Linked DNA regions of Homo sapiens. The protein of the gene in region 3 interacts with the protein of the main gene of each other region in a pairwise test. Each region holds a gene or a part of one and is shown on either strand. Other genes may lie near its edges.

Evidence for each region. Proteins that work in one complex are often made in the same cells at the same time.
Region 1: the proteins of ELOVL4 (region 3) and SNORC interact in binary tests that used the Homo sapiens proteins (3 or more experiments, as listed by UniProt).
Region 2: the proteins of ELOVL4 (region 3) and FDFT1 interact in binary tests that used the Homo sapiens proteins (3 or more experiments, as listed by UniProt).

The regions. Positions count from the first base shown.
Region 1 is NC_000002.12:232,872,892-232,879,332, forward strand, and holds the end of SNORC (protein SNORC isoform c precursor), read left to right. Parts: intron 1-2,563; exon of another isoform or gene 2,564-2,606; coding exon of another isoform or gene 2,607-2,664; intron 2,665-2,702; exon of another isoform or gene 2,703-2,914; intron 2,915-2,940; exon of another isoform or gene 2,941-3,048; coding exon 3,049-3,231; intron 3,232-3,355; coding exon 3,356-3,465; 3' UTR 3,466-5,809; downstream 5,810-6,441. UniProt on the Homo sapiens protein: Plays a role in the regulation of chondrocyte maturation and postnatal endochondral ossification. May inhibit cell growth stimulation induced by FGF2.
Region 2 is NC_000008.11:11,819,369-11,826,872, reverse strand, and holds part of FDFT1 (squalene synthase), read right to left. Parts: intron 5,124-7,504; coding exon 4,995-5,123; intron 850-4,994; coding exon 658-849; intron 1-657. UniProt on the Homo sapiens protein: Catalyzes the condensation of 2 farnesyl pyrophosphate (FPP) moieties to form squalene. Proceeds in two distinct steps.
Region 3 is NC_000006.12:79,923,303-79,930,806, forward strand, and holds part of ELOVL4 (very long chain fatty acid elongase 4), read right to left. Parts: intron 3,080-7,504; coding exon 2,892-3,079; intron 1,731-2,891; coding exon 1,650-1,730; intron 1-1,649. UniProt on the Homo sapiens protein: Catalyzes the first and rate-limiting reaction of the four reactions that constitute the long-chain fatty acids elongation cycle.

The DNA of each region.
Region 1 (6,441 bases), on a different chromosome or scaffold from region 3:
GCACCCCTTTTCCTGGTGGATCGGTGGCTGAGTGCAGGCTGTCATTCCGAGCCTATGTGTCTGCCACTTGGGCACCAGCCTAGGTTGGCAGGGAGCTGGTGGCTCCTGGGGCCCTGGCCGCTTGGGTGCAGATGGGTACTGGGCCAGCCTGTGAGGGATTCCTGTGGCAGCCAGCGGCTGCAGACCCATAGCAACTGGGCTTGTGTCCAAAGGCGCACCCCAGGCCAGACGCAGCAGCTGAAGATGCTGGTGTTCACACAGTTACCTCCTTGTGCAAGATGCTTGACAGCATAGTCTGAACCCCCGTCTTACAGGTCAGGAAGGTGGATTGGGGCATGGAGCAAGGATAGGCCCCAGCCCTCCTGATTAGAAAGCTTCATGGCCTGGCTGGACAGGAGGGGGCTGTGTACAGTGGGAGGAGGCCAGGGCAGGTATGTCTGGTGGTGGGCGCAGCAGAGACAGGCTGGGTCACGGGGGACAGATGGGGACAGGGCCTGAGTGGGGCTCCCCACTGCCCTGCTCAGAGGGTACCGTCAAGGGTGGCAGCTCACCCCTGCTGGGCTGGCCTGGGTACTGAGCCCTGCCTTCTCAGGGGCTGGAGGCCTGCCACTCCTCGGCTGATTCCCGCAGATGCCACCCGGCTCAGCTGGGCCTGGTACCCAGAAGCCCTGCCGCGGCCTCCAGATGCAGGGAGGTGCCTACCTGCCAGTCTGTCTTGGGTGTGTCATTTGTCCATTTCTTTGGACATGTTCAGGCAGTCAGTGAGCCTAGACCCTGGTGCCTGCCAGGCGGTGGGCGCACTCAGGCCTTTTACCTGCCCAGCCCCCAGAAGCCTGAGGCAGCACGCCAGGGGCCTGGGGCCTTCCATGGGGACTGCAAGGCTGCAGACCCCTGCCTTTCTGGCTGCGACATGGGAGGCCTGGCTGGGTCACTTCCCCTCCTCTCAGGGTGGTCTTCAAGGTTTGCGGGAGGCTAGAGAGACATCAGTGCTACAGTGCAGCCTTGGGCCCCTCGGGAGGGAAGCCTCCCCCAGTTGGGGGCCAATGGGCCTTCCACCCATGGGGCCTCCTGCCAGAGGTCTTTTCTGGAAAGGGGTTCTGCCTTGGGCCAGCCCTGGGGAATGTGGCAGGTCAGGTGAAAGGTCAGCAAGCTGTCTCAGAGCTGAGCCTTGCAACTGACCTCTCCAGGCTTGAGAGAGGCCCAGAAGCCAGGGACCTGCTAACATTTTATTGTGGAAAGATGTGAAGTTTACAGAAAAGTTGCACAAATACTCCAATGAACTCCAGGAGTCCATCCACCTAGTCTTGCCAACTGCCAACATTTTGCTACATTGCTGAATCCTCTATCTGAATGCTGAAATCATTTGAGAGTAAGTTGCAGAAGTCATGTTCCTTTGCCCCTAAATTCTTCCTAAGAACAAGGACATTCTCTTAACACACCAGAGTCAGCTATCAAAACCAGGAAGTGAGCACTGAGGCAGTCCTAAGCCACACCCTGTTCAAACTTCACCAACGGACCTGAGTCTCCGATCACAGGCCTGTCCCTCCCCGTCCAGGAACATTGAGCTGTCTCCTTAGTCTCTGATCTGGAACCTTTCGGCCTTTCTTTGTTTTTCCTAACTTTGACATTTGGGAAGGCCCATTTACTTTAAGACTGACCCTGAGTCTGGGTTGGCTGATGTTTCTGCGTGGTTTGCCCTAGATGGACACAACTGGCCAGAAAACCCTGGAAGGACCTCTGTGTCTTCTCGAGCATCCGCCTCTCTGGGTGCTGGTGAACCTATGAGGAGGGCAAGTGTCTGGCTTGACTCTTGCCCCAGCGCTCAGGGATGGAACCCGCAGGGACAAAAGGTGCCCTAGGGTCGCCGGCTGGCCGGCAGGGTCTGTTCACAGAACGGCAGCCTCCCTGCACTGTTTCTGGGCAGCACAACCGCTCCTGCAACTGTCCAAGGCCTTCAGCCCACCTGTGCTCACCACCACGGCACCTTATCCCCAAGCCTTGGCTTTCTTGTCTCTGAAATGGGGATAAAAGCAGTTCCCACACCACAGAGTAGCTGGAGTCAAAGAGATGAGGTGTTGGGACATCCCCAAGCTCATCCAGGGAACCGGCTTGAGGGTCGAGTGTCCCTGGATCACAGTCTCTATCCCAGTTGAGATTAGAGCATGGGGCCGGCCGCAGTGGCTCACACCTGTAATCGCAGCACTTTGGGAGGCCGACACGGGTGTATCACCTGAGGTCAGGAGTTCAAAATCAGCCTGGCCAACATGGCAAACCCCGTCTCAACTAAAAATACAAAAATTAGCTGGGTGTAGTGGCAGGTGCCTGTAGTCCCAGCTACTCCGCAGGCTGAGGCAGGAGAATCGCTTGCTTGAACCCGGGAGGCGGAGGCTGCAGTGAGCCGAGATTGTACCACTTCACTCCAGCCTGGGCACAGAGCAAGACTCTGTTTCAAAAAGAGAGAGAGAGAGATTAGGACATGGGCAGGCCTGCCCTGCTAACACTGTGATGTCAGATGGTCTGGCTGGGCTGGAGAGGCCAAGAGCCGACCTACCATCCCCATGTTGAGCTTTCCAGCGTTTCTGGGGCATCCTGTCTGGTTGCCGGGGATGGATGGCCCAGGGTTGGAGTGGTGGTCAGGGGAGGACAACTGGGGTGGGCTGGCTGGTGAGGATACAGGGCGGGGGTTATCATGCAGGCGTCTCAGCCTGTGCTTTCTGTGGGACTGAGAATGTCTCCTTTCTGCTCTCTGGTCCCTGGGTACCCCAAATCCTGCCAACTCCCAACCCTATAAGCAGAGAAGGGCTTTGTGGGGGGCACCTCCCTTACACTGAACAGACACTCCTCCTGCCCACCCACCGGCCCTGCCCAATGGGAGGCAGCAACGCACTGGCTTCAGCTTCTTAGCCTGGGAAATGTGAGGGCTAGTGCAGCGCTGAGCCCAGACCCCTCACACAGCGCTACCGGCAACTTGCTTAACCTAGAGGTGGGGGGTGACGTCCCTGTCGGCCCCGTCACCTGGGGCCCCAGCACCTCTCCTTGGCTTTGCAGACGATGTTCCACAGGAGCCCGTGCCCACGCTGTGGAACGAGCCGGCCGAGCTGCCGTCGGGAGAAGGCCCCGTGGAGAGCACCAGCCCCGGCCGGGAGCCCGTGGACACCGGTCCCCCAGCCCCCACCGTCGCGCCAGGACCCGAGGACAGCACCGCGCAGGAGCGGCTGGACCAGGGCGGCGGTACGGGCGGGGCGGGGGAGGGAGGGGAGAGGGAGAAATTAGGAGGGGCGGGGGGCGGGGGGCGCGGGGAGAAGGGCCGGCCAGGCGGGGGCTAGCAGGTGACATGGTCCTCCGTCCTCCGCAGGGTCGCTGGGGCCCGGCGCTATCGCGGCCATCGTGATCGCCGCCCTGCTGGCCACCTGCGTGGTGCTGGCGCTCGTGGTCGTCGCGCTGAGAAAGTTTTCTGCCTCCTGAAGCGAATAAAGGGGCCGCGCCCGGCCGCGGCGCGACTCGGCTGCACTCCTCACGCGCCTGTATGTCCGCGCGTGCGTGTCCGCGCATGCAGGTGTGCCAGAGCGTGAGCGCGCGCAGGCGAGCGCTCAGGGCGGGGGTGCGCGCGGGGCCGAGGGTGGGTGCCGTGCACGCGCGCGGGTCCGGAGGCGCGCCCGAATTCCCCGCAGGGGCGCCGGGGCGTGCGTGAGCGCACAGCATGTCCGAGCCCGCCTGCGTGTGGCGTGCACCTGAGCGCGCGCAGGGCCGCGCGGCTCGGCGTCCCCGTGCACCACGGCTGGAGTGCCTCAGGAGCGCGCCGCATGTGCGTGCCCGGTGCGCGTGCGCCGGGGCCGCCAGGGCATCGGAGCGGGTGTGCGGCCAGCGGTCTTAGCCCGTCCGGGGGCACCGTCACGGTCAGGGCCACGCCACGGGCGGCCCCTTCTCCCGGCGCCGCCTCCTCTGCCTGGGCGCGGGCCGAGGCCCTCGCCGCGCTCCCCGGGGCCTGCCTCCCATCCCGCTCCGCTGGGGTTCAGAGCGTTCCGTGAGGAGGTAAGCGCTAGGGCAGGAGAGGCCGACAGAGACCCCGGGGCCCGCCGCTCCTTGAGGCCGGGGTTGGGGAGGGCAGGGGCCGTCGGCTCTCCCAGCCAGAGGCCGCGTGGTTTTGGGGGACGTCTTGACTCTGAGTCCTGCAGCCAGGGCCCCATCCGCGGGCTCAGACCAGCAGCCCCAAGCCCCCCTCTGCCCAGGGAGCCTCAGGAGCAGGATGAGTCGAGAGTCGACGCCGGACACGGCCCGCCCCTGCTTCCTACTCTCACCCCCAGGCCTGGCTGGGGGCCGGCAGCCCCCACGCCCACGGTTGGTTTGTTCAGGGAGAGAAAACGGCTTTCCCAGCTCTACTCACCTCACTTCACCCTCAGAGAGTCGGGGCGGAGTGAGGGTGAGGAGCCTGGTCCAGGGTCCCCACCTCGGAAGCATTTAGAGATGTAAACTTTGATCCTTTGATCATTTAACCTGCTCAGCACAGCAGGAAGTGGGAACTTGGTCCCTACCCCAGTCCCCAGGGCCTTTGGAGGGAAGGGTTGGACAGTTTGGAGGCCAGCAGACCCCTTGGGGACAGCTTAATGTATCTGAAGATTCCTGAGTGGGAATGTTGCTGGAGGGCAAGCTGCTTCTCTTTTTTAAAAATTCATTTTCTCTAGCAGCTGTTTTGGCCCCTTTGGTGTCCCTGAGCTCCCCATGGCACTGTTTCCTGCCGTGACTTTCTCCTCCTGGACACTGGAGCCCAGGTGGTGCCCGCGCACCTCTCACACACTGGGGGATAGGGTCAAGGCCTCATCCAAGTCTGTTAACAGCTTCCCACTCAACCAGTCTCCCCAAAATACACTGTGAGTTCAATGATTCTGCTTATAAAGGAGTGCTATGAAACTGACCTATTTTCCTAATTGGTTAACTGACTTCATCTCACATAACCTTGAGTAACCAAAGCCTTCATCAGAGCGGACGATCCAACCCAACATGCTGTTTCCCATCCTCAAAAGGCACGGGGACCAATGGCCACCCAACTCCTTCCCAACCCTCCCCTCCAGGGACGAGAGATGGCCCCCTCTTTCCCTTTCCCCACTCTGCAAGCACTCCCCCACCAACGGGTGCATCACAGCCCCTCACTGGGACCAGGGGGCCTCCCTCTCCGGTGGAACCAGTGTCACATGCCTGTGCATCTCTGTGATTCTCAGAGGGTCTGAGGTCCGAGCACCCTGCTGTGGCCTGTGGGAAGACGCTACAAAGTCCCACTGGATCTAAACCAGAGGCCTGTTCTGGCGAGCAGGGAAACTGTGTCCTGGCAGAGATCGTGGTCCTGGGCACACAGGACCCCTCAGCACACTGAGGTGGAGCTGGGGCGAGGGGAGGGGGTGCGCTCTGGGTAACTGAAGGTGTGAAGGGCCCAGGGCCTGTTTCTGGGCAGTGCAGGAAGTCCCAGCCCCATGCCTGTGGTGAGATCCCCTGTAGGGCCCCCCCCACCATGGACACTTCGGGGCCTCTACGGTCTTCCAAAGCTGTGTCCTCATTTCCACTGCAGCAGAGGGGCGTCCCCAGCTCCGTCAAACAGCCCTTTCTGTTTCTGGAGTCCTACAAGTGGAGGCCCAAATCCGTTCCCATGTTGAGGCAAGGCCCTGGCTGTTCCTTCCTCTCTGGAAACCGCCTTGAACTCTTCCTTTGGGACATGCCTCCTCGACCAGCCTTGAAGGGGTGCTCCTCTCTCACTACCTGGAACCAAACACCCCCTTCCTTTGTGTACAAGGGCAATAAAGAGTAGACCTTCATCTTCTTTATTTTATATATGATGCTTCTTTTAATGCAGCCAAAAGTGATATTTGCTTTTCTCAGAACCATAATCGATACAAGATGCAGTGACCAATTCATTCCTTAAAACACCTGGGCTCCTTAAGGGGCTAGAAGACACAAGTTACATCCAGCCCATCAGGGAGCCAGAGGCGGGAGGGGTCCCCAGCCAAGCTCTGGCAGGCCTGCCATGGGGCAGGGCCTGACCGTGCAGCCAGAGGCTGGCAGAGGCCTGGGGAAGGGTGGGCAGAGGCAGCTGGGCTCTCAGTCCTGGAACCGGAGACCAAGGGCTGCTCATCAAGCTCCGTCAGGCAAGGGCGGCCTCATCTGTGCCTGGTAGATTCTAACTGCTTCCAAGGTAGAGGAGGACGCGTGCAGGAAATCGTGTCAATTGTCACCTTCTGCCTGCCTCCCACAGGGACACTCTGGGTTGGGAGCCTCTTCCAGTCCCTGGGGGCCAGGGGCATGGGGGGCCCTGGAGTGTGCCCACCCCCTTCCACCCCCTCGGAGGCATGAGGGAGGTGGTGTAATACTGCTGAAACCTTCTTGTTTACAAATGCATCAGGAGAGGCTTGGGCACCCTTTATCCAGTTTGCGAGCAAGGGGCCAAGACACATG
Region 2 (7,504 bases), on a different chromosome or scaffold from region 3:
GTAGCAACAGTAACTGATTCAGGGCTGAGCAGAAGAACCAAGCCCTTCCTCTTCTTTTGAGAGGGAGTCTCACTCTGTCGCCCAGGCTGGAGTGCAGTGGCACAATCTGAGCTCACCGCAATCTCTGCTTCCTGGGTTCAAGCGATTCTCCTGCCTCAGCCTCCCAGGTAGCTGGGATTACAAGCCCTTGCCACCACGCCCGGCTAATTTTTGTATTTTTTAGTAAACACGGGGTTTCACGATGTTGGCCAGGCTGGTCTCGAACTCCTGGCCTCAGGTGATCCGCCCACCTTGGCCTCTCAAACTGTTGGGATTACAGGCATGAGCCACTGCGCCAGGCCGAACAAAGCCATTCCTAAGAACTTTTTGTTAAGCTAGTGCACATGGGTTGTTACCATATCCACCACTTGGAGAAAGACCGTCTGAAAGAAATCAAGGACAGCAAGGCTTGAATATACTGATTACGTGGTGTGAATCCTGGGAGTCAGCCAGTCTACCTGAAGCAAACTCATGTCAAGCTATCCTATTTTCCACATCCCCTTATGCTGCCTGGGGGAGGCCTGACTTGTTTTTCTGTCACCCGCAACCACAAGAGTTAAAGGATTTTTCAGAGAATGTCTAAAGTTATTTTCCCCCAAAATACCCTGAATCTGTTACCTCTTGAGGCCAGAACTCTCTTCCTCCTTGCTGGTCTTCCAGATAGTCACGGATGATGTTTGTTTTCTGCAAAAACAGGCCCATAGAGTTGGCACGTTCTGTATCTTCACCAACTAAGGGGTCTTCAAACTCTGAGGCTGAGAAAAGACGGGAAAGGCCAATTCCGACCAGCCCAGCAACATAGTGGCAGTACTGTAAGAGACGATTTTTAAAGCACTTTAATAATGGAATTTTTACTGAAATGGACACACTAGAGATCATTAGCTACAAAAAAGCAGGTTCAAAAGAGAATGGGTAAGAATGCATTTTGATTTTAAAATACAAATATACATACCAGGATTTAAAAAACATTCAAGAAGGATGTGCTCAAAACATTTCATAGCAGTCTCTGGCTGACGGGAATTTGATGTTTTTATTTTTCACTTGTATTTTCCAAATTTCTACAATACACATGTACTGCTACTATAATAAAAGGCTACTGAAAAAAACTAGTAAACATTTTTTTATTTTTATTTTTTATTTTTTTTTTGAGATGGAGTCTCATATATTTGCCCACGTTAGACTCAAACTACTGGACCCAAGCAATCTTTCTGCCTCAGCTTCCCGAACAGCTGGGATTGTAGGCAAATACCACCGTGTCTAGCTTTACAATAACTTTTTTTTTTTTTTTTTTTTTGAGATCAAGTCTCACTTTGTCCCCTGGGCTGGAGTGCACTGGCACAATCTCAACTCACTGCAACCTCTGCCTCTTGGGTTCAAGTGATTCTCCTGCCTCAGCTTCCTGAGTAGCTGGAATTAAAGCACCCACCACCACATCCAGCTAATTTTTTATTTTTAGTAGAGACGGGGTTTCACCATGTTGGCCACGCTGGTCTCGAACTCCTGACCTCAACTGATCTGCCAGCCTTGGCCTCCCAAAGTGCTGGGATTACCAGCCCAAGACACCGTGCCCGCCCTAGCTTTACAATAAACTTTTTGATACATAAAACTATGAGAGAAGGCAACGATGAAAGATGGAATATTCTGGTAACAGGAACTAGGACAATACCAACTATGGTTTAATCTTTTTTTGACCAATCTGATAACATGTCAAGATCCGCAGGCCCTCAAAATCATCATTATATGAAAGAACAAATAACTATTTTATGTTCTTGACACGGTTTTAAGAACTCTGCACATTCAGCCGGGCACGATGGCTCATGCCTGTAATCCCAGCACTTTGGGAAGCTGAGACGGGCGGATCACGAGATCAGGAGATCAAGACCATCCTGGCTAAGACGGTGAAACCCCGTCTCTACTAAAAATACAAAAAAATTAGCTGGCCTGGTGGCGGGTGCCTGTAGTCCCAGCTACTCAGAAGGCTAAGGCAGGAGAATGGCGTGAACCCAGGAGGTGGAGCTTGCAGGGAGCCGAGATCGCGCCACTGCACTCCAGCCTGGGCGACAGAGTGAGACTCCGTCTCAAAACAACAACAACAGAAAAAAAGAACTCTGCACATTCAATCCTCACAAACATTGTATCAGGTACATAGCAGTATGATCTCCATTTCAGATGAGGAAACTGAGGCACAAAGAAGTCGATTTAACTTGCCCAACATTGCCCATGTGAGAAAAAAAAAAAATTAGCCAGGCACAGTGACACAGGCCAGTGGTCCCAGTTACTCAGGGGGCTGAAGTAGGAGGCTCGCTTGAACCCAGGAAGGTTCAAGGGGCTGCCGTGTCTGTGGCAGGGGCTAAGAGTTCAAAACTAGGTAGTATGACTTAAGTGTCAGGCTTTAACAACTTTGCTAAAACTTCCCCTTTTCTTTTTAGTTTTTCTTTTAGAGACAACGTAACTTCCCCTCTCTCAACAGAGATTTCAGTAAATGCAACTCTTAATTGCCAAATACTTTTTTTTTCCGCGACAGCAATTTGTCAAAAGCTGTCCTCCTCTGAAAAGGGTATCCTAAGACAACTTAATGCAATATCCACATACAATAATTGTCTATTAGTTAACTTAAGAAGCAAAAGTAAAGAAGGTAAGCTCTGGAGTGTCATTAGGAAGGGTAAAAGTTAGGAAATGACCGAAGTTCACGCCTGTAATCCCGGAATTTTGGGAGGCTGTGGAGAGGGGACTGCTTGAGCCCAAGAGTTTTAGACCAGCCTGGCCAACAAAGCAAGACCTCATCTCTGTAAAAAATTTTAAAAGGCTGAGTGTAGTGGCTCACACCTGGGAGGCTAAGGCAGGTGAATCGCTTGAGCCCAGGAGCTCAAGACCAGCCTAGGCAACACGATGAAACCCTGTCTCTACCAAAAAATTACAAAAATTAGCCTGGTGTAGTGGTGTGGACCTATAGTCCCAGCTAATGGGGAGGCTGAGGTGAGAGGACTGCTTGAGCACAGGAGGTGAAGGCTGCAGTGAGCCTTGATCATGCCACTACACTCCAGCCTGGGTGACAGAGCAATACCCTGTCTCAAAAATAATAAAAATTAAAATAAATTAGCCAGGCATGGTGGCAACGTGCCTGTGGTCCCAGTTACTCAGGAGGCTGAGGGCAAGGAAGATTGCTTGAGCCCAGAAGGTCAAGGCTGCCTTGTCTGTGCCACTGCATTCCAGTCTGGGTGACAGAGTGAGACCCTGTCTCAAAAAAAAAAAGTCGTCTCTGACTGAAAGTAATACAAAGCCAGAGACTAATCAGGGGGAAGAATGCACAGGTGAAGAGAAAGCACTTGAAATTTGTTCTGGGACAAAAGTAACATGAAAAGAGTGAAATCTTGCTGAAATTAGGTAGACAGAAATTGGCTTTGGACAGCTATACAAAATCTTCAAAAGAATTACTAGAAATTTAAAAAAAAATTAGTATATCTATAGTACTATCCAAAAATATATTTGAAGATAATAGTTCTTTTGGTAGAAATACTCCTAAAATGGAGACTTATATAATTCATCTTCCCCCAAAGTAGAAGAAAAAAAATAACTCCTTGAAATAATTGGCTGGTCATGCCTGTAATCCCAACATTTGAGAGGCCAGAGTGGGAGGACTGTTTGATGCCAGGAGTTTGAGACTAGCCTGGGCAACATGGCAAAACCCTCTCTCTACAAAAAATGTACAAAAATGAGCCTGGTATGGTGTCATGCACTGTAGTTACAGCTACTCGGTAGGCTGAGGTGGGAGGATCACCTGAGCCCAGGAGGTTGAGGCTGCGGGGAGCCGTGATCACACCACTACACACCAGCCTGGATAACAGCAAGACCCTGTCTCAAAAAAAATTTTTTTTAATTCAATTTTATCTGATCAAAACTTCTATTCAACAACCTAAAATTAAGTTTCCTGAATAAATCTGCACAACAGAAAATGAGTTACTATCATAACCAGTGCTGGTTCTTGGCCAGAAGTTTTAACTTCAACTTTATTTTCTTTCAGATGGTGTCTTGCTCTGTCACCCACGTTGGAGTGCAGTGGCACAATCATGGCTCACTGCAACCTTCAACTCTTGGGCTCAAGCAATCCTCCCACACCTCAGCCTCCAGAGTAGCTGGGACCACAGGCACATGCCACCAATTCCCTGCTCATTTTTTAATTTTTTGAAAGACGGGGTCTCGCTATGTTGCTTAGGCTTGTGTCTAACTCCTGGGCTCAAATGATCCTCCCACCTCAGCCTCCCAAAGTGCTGAGATTACAGGTAAACCATAGTACCCGGCTAACTTCACCTTAAATGCAGAAATTGATTTCTAGCAGTCATTGTATGCTGTTAACTTAGGAAGCACAAATCAGCAGTTCCAAAGATAACTGCTGTCAAGTTTTGAGGTTTGAAAAATTAAGAGGCCCAAGACCTTGGACCTACACTAACGTAGTGACCATGTAGCAGCATCTTTTCGGAGATCCTAATTTAAGCACAGTTAAAGGTATGAAATACATCAACACTTTAGATGTCTGAAATGTCTCTGCCTGCTAAATCTGACTGGCTTTAAAATAAATAAATAAAATGTCTTTACTTCCACAGAAGTGATGAGTAAGTCTCACAAACACCATTCCTATGAAAAATAGGCAAGACTCCTAACCCTACCTTATGTTTTGATGTGTAGTTTTAATCTTCATGGTCAATTACATCCCTTTGTCTAGATAAGCACTTCTCTCCAGTACCCTACTCCTAGCCTGGCTGATATCCTACATAGCTGCTGGTTTGGAATTAACTCTGGAATAAACTGTTTATGATGAGACATTCAACCTAAACAGATGAATTGTAAAACCAGAGGGGCTGAAAATACTGGACAACTTTTCTTGTTCTGAGCTTCACTATGAGGACTGCCAGCTCTGTCTAATACATCACACACAGACACTGTTTTATGAGACTAACCTTGTCCCACTCCTGTTCAGAGGTCACATGCTTATCCAAAAACTCTGCCATCCCAATGCCCATTCTCCGGCAAATGTCGGCAATCACTGTTTGGTATTTCTCAGCCAGATTTCTAAACTCAAGGGAGATCTGAAATGGAAACCGTAAAAACACAGAAATCATGAAATATGTACAGACATGGCACCAAAGATCACAAGGCAAACAATGGCGGAATTAATCATGACTGCAATGGTTCATCTATAAGCCTAATTTAGGTCACACATTTTTTTTGTTTTTGTTTTTGTTTTTGAGATGGAGTCTCGCAATGTTGCCCAGGCTGGAGTGCAATGGCACGATCTCAGCTCACTGCAAACTCCGCCTCCCAGGTTCAAATGATTCTCCTGCCTCAGCCTCTCCAGGAGCTGGCATTACAGGCATGCACCACCACGCCCAGCTAATTTTTATATTTTTAGTAGAAGTGGGGTTTCACCATGTTGGCCAAGCTGGTCTCAAATTCCTGACCTCATGATCCACTAGCCCTGGCCTCCCAAACTGCTGGGATTACAGGCATAAGCCACTGAGCCCGGCCTCATGTTTCTTATTATTTCATAAATTTCATAAATATTAAAATAGAATGGTCTAAAAATGCTAATGTTTCTAGATTCAAAAGAAGATTCAAAGTCTCACTACACATTTCATCTTTCCAATGTATAATGAGATGCTTCAACATAAAGCTGGGTTTAAGTTTTTGGGAGAACAGCTTGTTTAGAGAAACCTCATTATGAGAAAGATTCATTTGTGCAAACATGGATCAAGCACTTCCTATGTAACAAGTATCATTCTAGGCACTGGGGATATACATCAGGGCAACAAACAGAAACTCAGACCCAGAGTTGCTTCCAAGATGTCCCAGTAGGAACAGCTCTGGTCTACAGCTCCCAGCAAGATCGATGCAGAAGATGGGTGATTTCTGCATTTCCAACTGAGGTACCTGGTTCATCTCACTGGCACTGGTTGGACAGTGGGTGCAGCCCATGGAGGGTGAGCCAAAGCAGGGCAGGACGTCACCTCATCCAGGAAGTGCAAGGGGTCAGGGGATTTCCCTTTCCTAGCCAAGGAAAGGCGTGAGTGACTGTACCTGGAGGAACAGTATACTCTGCCCAAATACTGTGCTTTTCCCAGTCTTCGCAACTGGCAGAGCAGGTGATTGCCTCCAGTGCCTGGCTCGGGGGGTCCCATGCCCATGGAACCTTGCTTGCTGCTAGCCAAGCAGTCTGAGATCAAGCTGGGATGCTGGAGCTTGGTGAGGGGAAGCGCCTCCCCGCCATTGCTGAGGCTTCAGTACGCACTTCTATGCTCACAGTGTAAACAAAGCAGCAAGGAAGCTTGAACTGGGTGGAGCCCACCGCAGCTCAGCAAGGCCTACTGCCTCTCTAGATTGCATCTCTGGGGGCAGGGCATATCTAAACAAAAGGCAGCAGACGGCTTCTGCAGATTTAAACATCCCTGCCTGACAGCTCTGAAGAGAGCAGTGGTTCTCCCAGCTCGGCATTTGAACTCCAGTAACGGACAGACTGCCTCCTCAAGTGGGTCCCTGAGCCCCATGTAGCCTGACTGGGAGGAGACACCTCCCAGTAGGGGCCGACAGACACCTCATATAGGTGGGTGTCCTTCTTGGACGAAGCTTCCAGAGGAAGGATCAGGCCGCGATATTTGCTGTTCTGCAGCCTCCACTGGTGATACCCAGGTAAACAGGGTCTAGAGTGGACCTCCAGCAACTCCAACAGACCTGCAGCTGACGGGCCTCTGTTAGAAGGAAAACTAACAAACAAAGGAATAGGATCAATATCAACAAAAAGGACACCCACACCAAAACCCATCTGTACGTCACCAAAATCAAAGACCAAAGGTAGATAAAACCACAAAGATGGGGAGAAACCACAGCAGAAAGGCTGAAAATTCCAAAAACAGAACGCCTCTTCTCCTCCAAAGGAACGTAACTCCTCACCAGCAAAGGAACAAAACTGGATGGACAATGAGTTTAACGAGTTGACAGAAGTAGGCTTCAGAAGGTTGGTAATAACAAACTTCTCCAAGCTAAAGCAGCACGTTCTGACCGATCGCAAGGAAACTTAAAACCTTGAGAAAAGGTTGGACAAATGGCTAACTAGAATAACCAGTGTAGAGAAGAGCTTAAATGACCTGATGGAGCTGAAAACCAAAGTACAAGAATTTCACAAAGCATAAACAAGCTTCAATAGCCGATTCGATCAAGCAGAAGAAAGGATATCAGTGATCGAAGATCAAATTAATGAAATAAAGCAAGAAGACAAGATTAGAGAAAAAAGAATGAAAAGAAATGAACAAAGGCTTCAATAAATATGCGACTATGTGAAAAGACCAATGCTATGATTGTTGTACCTGAAAGTGATAGACAGAATGGAACCAAGTTACAAAACACTCTTCAGTATATTATCCAGGAGAACTTCCCCAACCTAGCAAGGCAGGTCAACATTCAAATTCAGGAAATA
Region 3 (7,504 bases):
CTGTTGCAAATCTCAGGTTCTTTATCCTCCTAGATTACAGTTCTCATAATAGCTCATTTTTTAAAGACTTGAAAATTTACATCTGTAAGTGAGAGTGGTATTTTTAAACCTTTATCCTAAAAATAGTAATATGTTGCCCCACCCAAGGGTTTTTCTATGCATACTCCCAGAAGTCAGTCAGTCAAACACTTATCCCTGTTCCCTTCCCTACGGCAAGCAAGAAGTCAGCCCTCCAACTGAAGAGATTCTTTGGCAATAGTTATCAGAAGAAAATTTTTCATAGCCAATACATCTGAGTAGTCTCTCATTTTCTCTCAGTCACCTTCTAGGTTTTATTTCCTCCTTAGTCATTTGTTTACATGGCTGCTGTCTGCCTTCTCACCCTCACTAAAATGCCAGCCCCACAAAGGCAGGGCTTTTCACCCCTGTCCCCAGTACCAACATATAGTAGATGCTCAATACATATTTAATGAATAAATAAAACCAACATGACAACCAAGACAGGTGATTTTTCATCAGTCCATAAGTCTTCTAATAGGGAAATGAAGATACGTACATAAAATTGTTAAGTACATTAAACCAATTTTGTCTCCAGTCTTGATGAATACTGATATTTATATATTGTCCACTCCCCATGCCAGGAAACTATTTTTCTCAAGGGAAGCCACTAGATATTATTACTACATATACTATAGGTAACATAAAACATGTTATGTTTTATATGTAATTTCTAGTATGAACCACAGTATATAAGAAGAGTTCAATAAATACGTAATAGAATAAGGTAATCTGTTGTTTCTTTTGCTTAATGTTAATTTTACTCATGTAAGTGAATGGAAAATAAAATATAACATCTTGTTACTAGTGTTTTATTTTTCTGCAAATATAAAAAAACTGAGTTTATGCCAATACAAATTGTTCTATGCCTAATTTCCTAAATATTCCACACTTCACAAAACATTTACTTTTCCTCACTTTCTTAACACATAACTTGGACTCTAAGAGTTTCTACTCTTGAGCAAAAACAAACAAACAAAAATCTAAAATAATGTCTTTAAAATAAACATGAGACTTCTTTGCTTTAACAAGTACTGCATTCTAGTAATTCAATGCATATTCACTCATGCTGCAAAATAAAAAACATTTTTGAGATACAAAAACAAATTTTAAATTAAGTACTTTTTAAAAAAGCATAGTTTTACTGACTCATAACAATCTAGTATAATTTCACTATCATATTAAAGTACATTTTGCCAGGTGTGGTGGCTCACACCTGTAATCTCAGCACTTTGGGAGGCTGAGGCAAGAGGATCCCTTGCGGCTGGGAGTTCAAGACCAGACTGGGCAACATAGCAAGACCCTGTCTCTACAAAAAGTAAAAAAATATCTAGGCATGGTGGGGTACACCCGTAGTCCCAGCTACTTGGGAGGCTGAGGCAGAAGGATCAATTGAGCCCAGGAGTTTGAGGCTGCAGTGAGCTATGATCATACCACTGCACTTCAGTCTGGGGGACAGAGCAAGAAACTGTCTCTAAATGAATGTTAAAGAAACTGTCTCTTAAAAAAAAGTACATTCTATATTTTCACAGACTGGGGCCTATAAAAATCAAACCACTTTTACTGATTAAGAGTATTTTTAATGTACTTACCCTGACTTCATGAACATTATTAGAATAATCCACACTCTGGCAAATATAGCTATATCCCGCATTATATGATCCCATGAATAACTGGAAAAAGAGTAATAATATTTGTAGTAAAGTTTTAGTAAACACAGCATTAAAAACACAATTATATACAAAATGTAGCCTTTCAAATTATTTTAAACACAATATTTTCTTTAAAAATTTCAAATGCATTAAAAATTTCATGCATTCCGATTGCTAGAAGTTACTGTGCATTAATTTGTTCTATAATTAAAATCTAAATTAAAAATCACATGTAAATTTTATACTGAACATTGACTCTATCTATTAAATACTTCACAGTATTAAGAGAAATTTTTATTGCTAGGACTCAGATTTCAAAGTTGTCCTACCTTAACTGGTTTCTATGTTTGATCCAGAGTGGTTTGCATCTAACAAATTAGGTACAGGTATCCAAATAAATTAAAGTGTTCATGAAGTTGAGACTCGAGGCTAAGTTTTCAAGTAAAGAAATATTTCTTTTTCTAAGAAGAGTTATTGTTTATTTTCCTAGCATTACTAGTCAGTTCTCTGGCTTCATACAGAATTTTAATGAGTCTCTTAGGAAACAAATTCTTTATACATATGCAATTTAAAAAATGGCTGTGTCAATCTAGCCTTTAGGATTTCCTTTGAAAATGTTGTGGAGAATTTGCTAGTGCCCAGAAAAGTATATAATGATTAGTAACAACAGCTATATGGCAGTTAATTCATTTTAATTCCAGCCCAAAATACAACATTATGTAATAGGATTTACTTGAAATTGGCATATTTTGATCAGTTACCAAACCAGAAACTACTGAATAAGAATTATAAATAAATAGCTGCTACTGTTTACTGAGTGCTTAATACGTGCCAAACACTATGCAAAAATTATCTTACTTTACTCCGATAATAACCTGAGATGGTAGGTATTTAAGTGGGGAAAACGAGGCTAAGAAAAGTTAAATAACTTTCAATGCCAGAACAGCTAATAAGGGTTACTTTAGAATCCAGTTGGTCTTATTCAAAATTCCACTTTAAACAACTTTCCTATACCTCATGTTTAATATTTTTGTTATTCAAAAGTGAAAAATGTCAAAAATGTACTTTTAGAGTAGCTAACAGTTATGTCTGGGTAAAATATTACAATGATGGTTTTACACATTCTCATTTTTAAATTTCCAATAACCTTGGAAAATTATTAAAGTGATCTTAAAAACATACCTCTCTGAAGATAAAGAGGTTAAGCAAAACCATCCCAAAATTATAGATAATGAGCACTAGACGCATCTGAAAAGGTTCTCGGTCCTTCATCCATTTTGGACCCAGCCACACAAACAGGAGATAAAGAGTGCTTATACTTAGTGTAGGCCAAGGAGACTGCATCAGAGGCCAATTTTCCACACGCTTATCTATAGAGAGAACAAAATACCATAAAATTCATTAATCAGTAAATGTTTTATAAAATACACTTTTTAGGAATCAAGATGTTTCAACTTAATTTCCTAATTTGACTAAATACGGATCACTGTCCTTTGAGTCCCAACAAAAAATACATGGTATAAAAACCAAAGAAACAATACTGACTCCTGCAAGTGGCTTTTGAAAATTATGCTTCATTACTTATGTCACACATTATGTTTTACAGAGACCCTACAGAACAAAAACAAGAAATAAAGCGCACTAAAAACAGAGGTGGTTATCTTGGGATGAAAAGTTAATGAAAAACTTCATACACAGAAAATAAATATGTTAAGGAAACATTTGTCTTCCATATTATACACGTGAAATTTATCAGGGCAGCTTGGAGGCTGCTCTGTGTGTCCACTCCTAAAGCAGGCAAGAATGTAACTGGAGAGGTACGTACGGGGCGATGGTAGCCATTTGCTGAAATATCTCGAGACACTGAAGACAAGAGTACAGGGGCACTGAGAGATTAAGTTAGGGTTAATTACAATTCTATAATGTAAACAGTCACCATATTCAAGACATTTTTCTAACTTTTTCATTGAGAACATGCACCTATTTTATTCCCATGAATAACTAACTTGAATGTTTTTCTCTAGAGCTGTAAATCGCATAACTTACATATGTGTAACTATATATATAAAATGCAACACATTATTTTACTTAAAATGAATTGATTGTCCAGCATATTCAAATACACAACCATAAATCAATTTTATAATGGAATGTTGCCACAAGTAAAACATTTCTGAAACAAGCATGATAATGAAATATGGATGGGATTAACAAAAATTCATCTTTTAACACATTATAAAAATATATTAATATTAATTTTTATATTTCTAAAAGCTAAACAACAGTTGAAGGTTGCAAATCTAATTTCTAGTTTATTCTTGGCAATGCAAAACATTTTATGTCGTATTTTGAAGAAATAATGTATTTTTAAAGTAGTAAAAGAAAATTCAACTTCTTAGAACCAACCTAAATGAATTTAACTTAATTGTTGATCATAATAACTCCCTATTTAAACTGTCATTTTTACTAAAGCCTGTATATGCAAAATGCTTCTGGATTAGTGAACTAGGTATTAAAATACCTTACTTAAAAAATTAATCTGTGTCTATATACTGTCAATAGACAGTAAGATACAAGATACGAAACACAATATTTAATCAAACAATTTGCAAAGTCAGGAAATGACACAACTATGGTTTTAATGAAATCAGAGTTGTTAAGAAGGTGAGCTATTGCTTGATGACTCGAGATATGGGAAAAAAAGGTGATAATGACTTGAAAGAAAAACACATATGGGAACCAGGAAAACAGAAAAACTGATTTTATTTCATAGTTTTAAAAGGAGGTCTACTATTCATAGAGATTATGGCTATATCACTCAAATCAAACACATTTCAGAGTTAAAAATAAACCAATATATTTGAACCACAGGAGAGATGGTAAACTTCTCACAAGGAGGAAATGACTTAAAAGATAGCACGGCTGACTTTTGTTAAAAAGGCGTTGTGCCACGAAGGTCTTATCAGTGACTGTTCACTTTTCTTAATGGCATTTTATCATTTTATGTTCATTATCATTCTATGACCATATCTTTCTATGCTAAAGGCCCCCTATAAAACATGAGGTGTGCATCTACTTAGGTATTTCTTTTTCTATATTATAGAAAAAAAAAGATTTAGACAAACCCCCTATATTAGAGAAGAAACATTTAGACAAACTCTCTGTTCTAGGTCACAGAGAAGGAGTTGCTGTGGTATCCTGTTCTTTTCCACCAACTTTAAGGCAGGCGCTGTTTTTCCCATGAGACTTATACAAAGAGCAAAAGTACTCTGATTAATGCCATACTCCATGTAACAAAGAAAGGAAGATAAATGTATCTGTGAGGAGATTTTAATTCCTAACATCATAGATTATCTCTCACCCTTACCACACACAGAATTCCTACTGACTTCAAAGAAAGTTCTGAGTAGCGGGTAGAAAAAAAAAATTAAAGAAATAGGTCCAAACCTCTGCCAGAAATTAAGAGTAAGTAAAAGTGCTCATTCTTTTTGATGTACAGTGTGGTATGCTGTATCGTTTTCATTCAACAGAGAAATTTAAAGAGAGGACTACCACAGGAGAGAGGGAAAGAGACACTAGTGAGAAGCTGAAGATCTTACAATATGAAACACTAATAGAGGCCAATAGAAGAGTAAAAAAGTAAAGAGAAACAGGAAATAACAGAGGCATCAGAGAAAGCACACAAGACCCTACCAGTAAGTAGACTGGTGACTGGGTTTTTTTTTTTTTTTTTTTTTTTTTTTTAAGAAATGGAGTCTCATTCTATTGTCCAGACTAGAGGGCAGTGGTGCACACATGGCTCACTGCAGCCTCCACCTCCAGGGCTCAAGTGATCCACCTGCCTCAGCCTCCTGAGTTGCTGATGCCACAAATTATAAGTAAATAAAAATGTTCATTCTTTTTTATATATAGTGTGGTGCACTGTTGTTCTCTCATTCAACAGAGAATTTCCAAAAGAGAGAAGGAAAGAGGCACTAGTAAGAAGCCACCATGACCAGCTGACTGGCTGAGTTCTAACACTGGCTCTGCTACTGTGCATAGGACCTTAGGAGCACAATCTATCTTCATTTCCTCCATCTGTAAAACTGGATGGGAAGTAGGTGAACCAGATTAGTGCTTCTCCAGTTTCAATGAGAAAACGAATCACCAGGTTGGGGAGGGGGGCGGGTGGGCATGGTAAAAATGCAGATTTTGAGACAGTGGGTCAGATATGCAGCCCATTTCTTTTCTTTTCTTTTTTCTTTTTTGAGACAGAGTCTCGTTGTGTCACCTAGGCTGGAGTAAAGTAGCACGATCTCCGTCCACTGCAGGCTCAGCCTCCTGAGCTCAAGCCATCCTCCCACCTCAGACTCCCAAGTAGCTGGTCCTACAGGCACACGCCAACACACCCTATTACTTTTTGTATTTTTTGTAGAGACAGGATTTTGTCATGCTGCCTAGGCTGGTCTCAAACTCCTAAACTCAAGCAATCCATCCACCTTGGCCTCCCAAAGTGTTAGGATTACAGGCGTGAGCCACCATGCCCAGCCCATGCAGCCCATTTCTAAGAAGACCACATTTTCCAGGAAGCTCTAACTGATGCTATGCCATTATTCCATGGACCATCCCCTTTTGAGCAGTAACAAACTACATGATCATTTAGGTTTATTTTAACTTCTGAAAATTGTTACTTTTAAAAATAATTATTAGGAGGAAGAATAGACTAATGGTGAGGAAAACTGGATCAAGAAAATTTTAACTGGTCAGGGGACGCATTTTGCATGACCAGAGCACCTGCACATGTTACTATTCCATTACAGCACTCATTACACTGTCCAGTGACCTTCTTTTAAACTGTTTTCTCCCTGAAAAGAGGGGCTGGGTGTTTCATTCTTGTATTGCAAGGCCTATCAAAGTACCTAAAAATATATTTGATGAATAAATAAAGAGTAGATAATTTTTTCACACTATTCCTCTATTCTCTATCCTTTCTGCCAAATCCAAAAGCACATTTGTTGATATTCAAGGTTTCCTCAGTGTCCAAGAACCCTTCCTAGAGCTTTTCCCAGATCCTCCTCTATGCTGGCATAATAACTTTATCCTCAAGTCAACAACTCATCAACCTAGTATTTAGTGAATATATGTGCTCTACAAAGCTCAATGACCTTTTACTTCATTCCTTACTCCAGGGGAAAAAAGCAATGCCCTCACTTCTTTGCCCAACAATGCAAGGCATGCATTCATTCAACAACCACTTAACAAATCCCTGTTTTCAGCCTATAAAAGGCCACATTTTACACCATACCCTTCTCAAATTAGCCCTTCTAGTTCAGCAGGGTCAGAGAGCTTTCAAAAATTCAGCCTCCCAGGATTATCATGGAAGCTACAGTAACTGTCAACCCCTAATCCACAGCATAACAATTCCCAACCTTTTAATAATATTTGGATGAAATTCCTCCATGTCTTTACATGTTATAATACTATACTAGTTATGTTTGTTTTTCTGCATGTATTTGCATTAATATTTCCTTTAGTGCTTCTGATGAGATGCAAATATTCTATATTTCTTTCATATGTTTCCTTTTCCACTAAAAAGGGCTGTGTCACAATAGTGCCATACAACGATATGAAAATTCATCATTACTAACAGTTCCACCTGAGTTTTAAACCAAAAAAAGGTTGGGGGGCTAAAACAGTAAAGGAAAATCATGAATACTAATGCTTCATGTATTTTATGTAAACTTTAAATATATTAAATTATCCATATTTTCATTAACTCGAATGTTTAAAAATATATATTAATATTTTACAGCTAA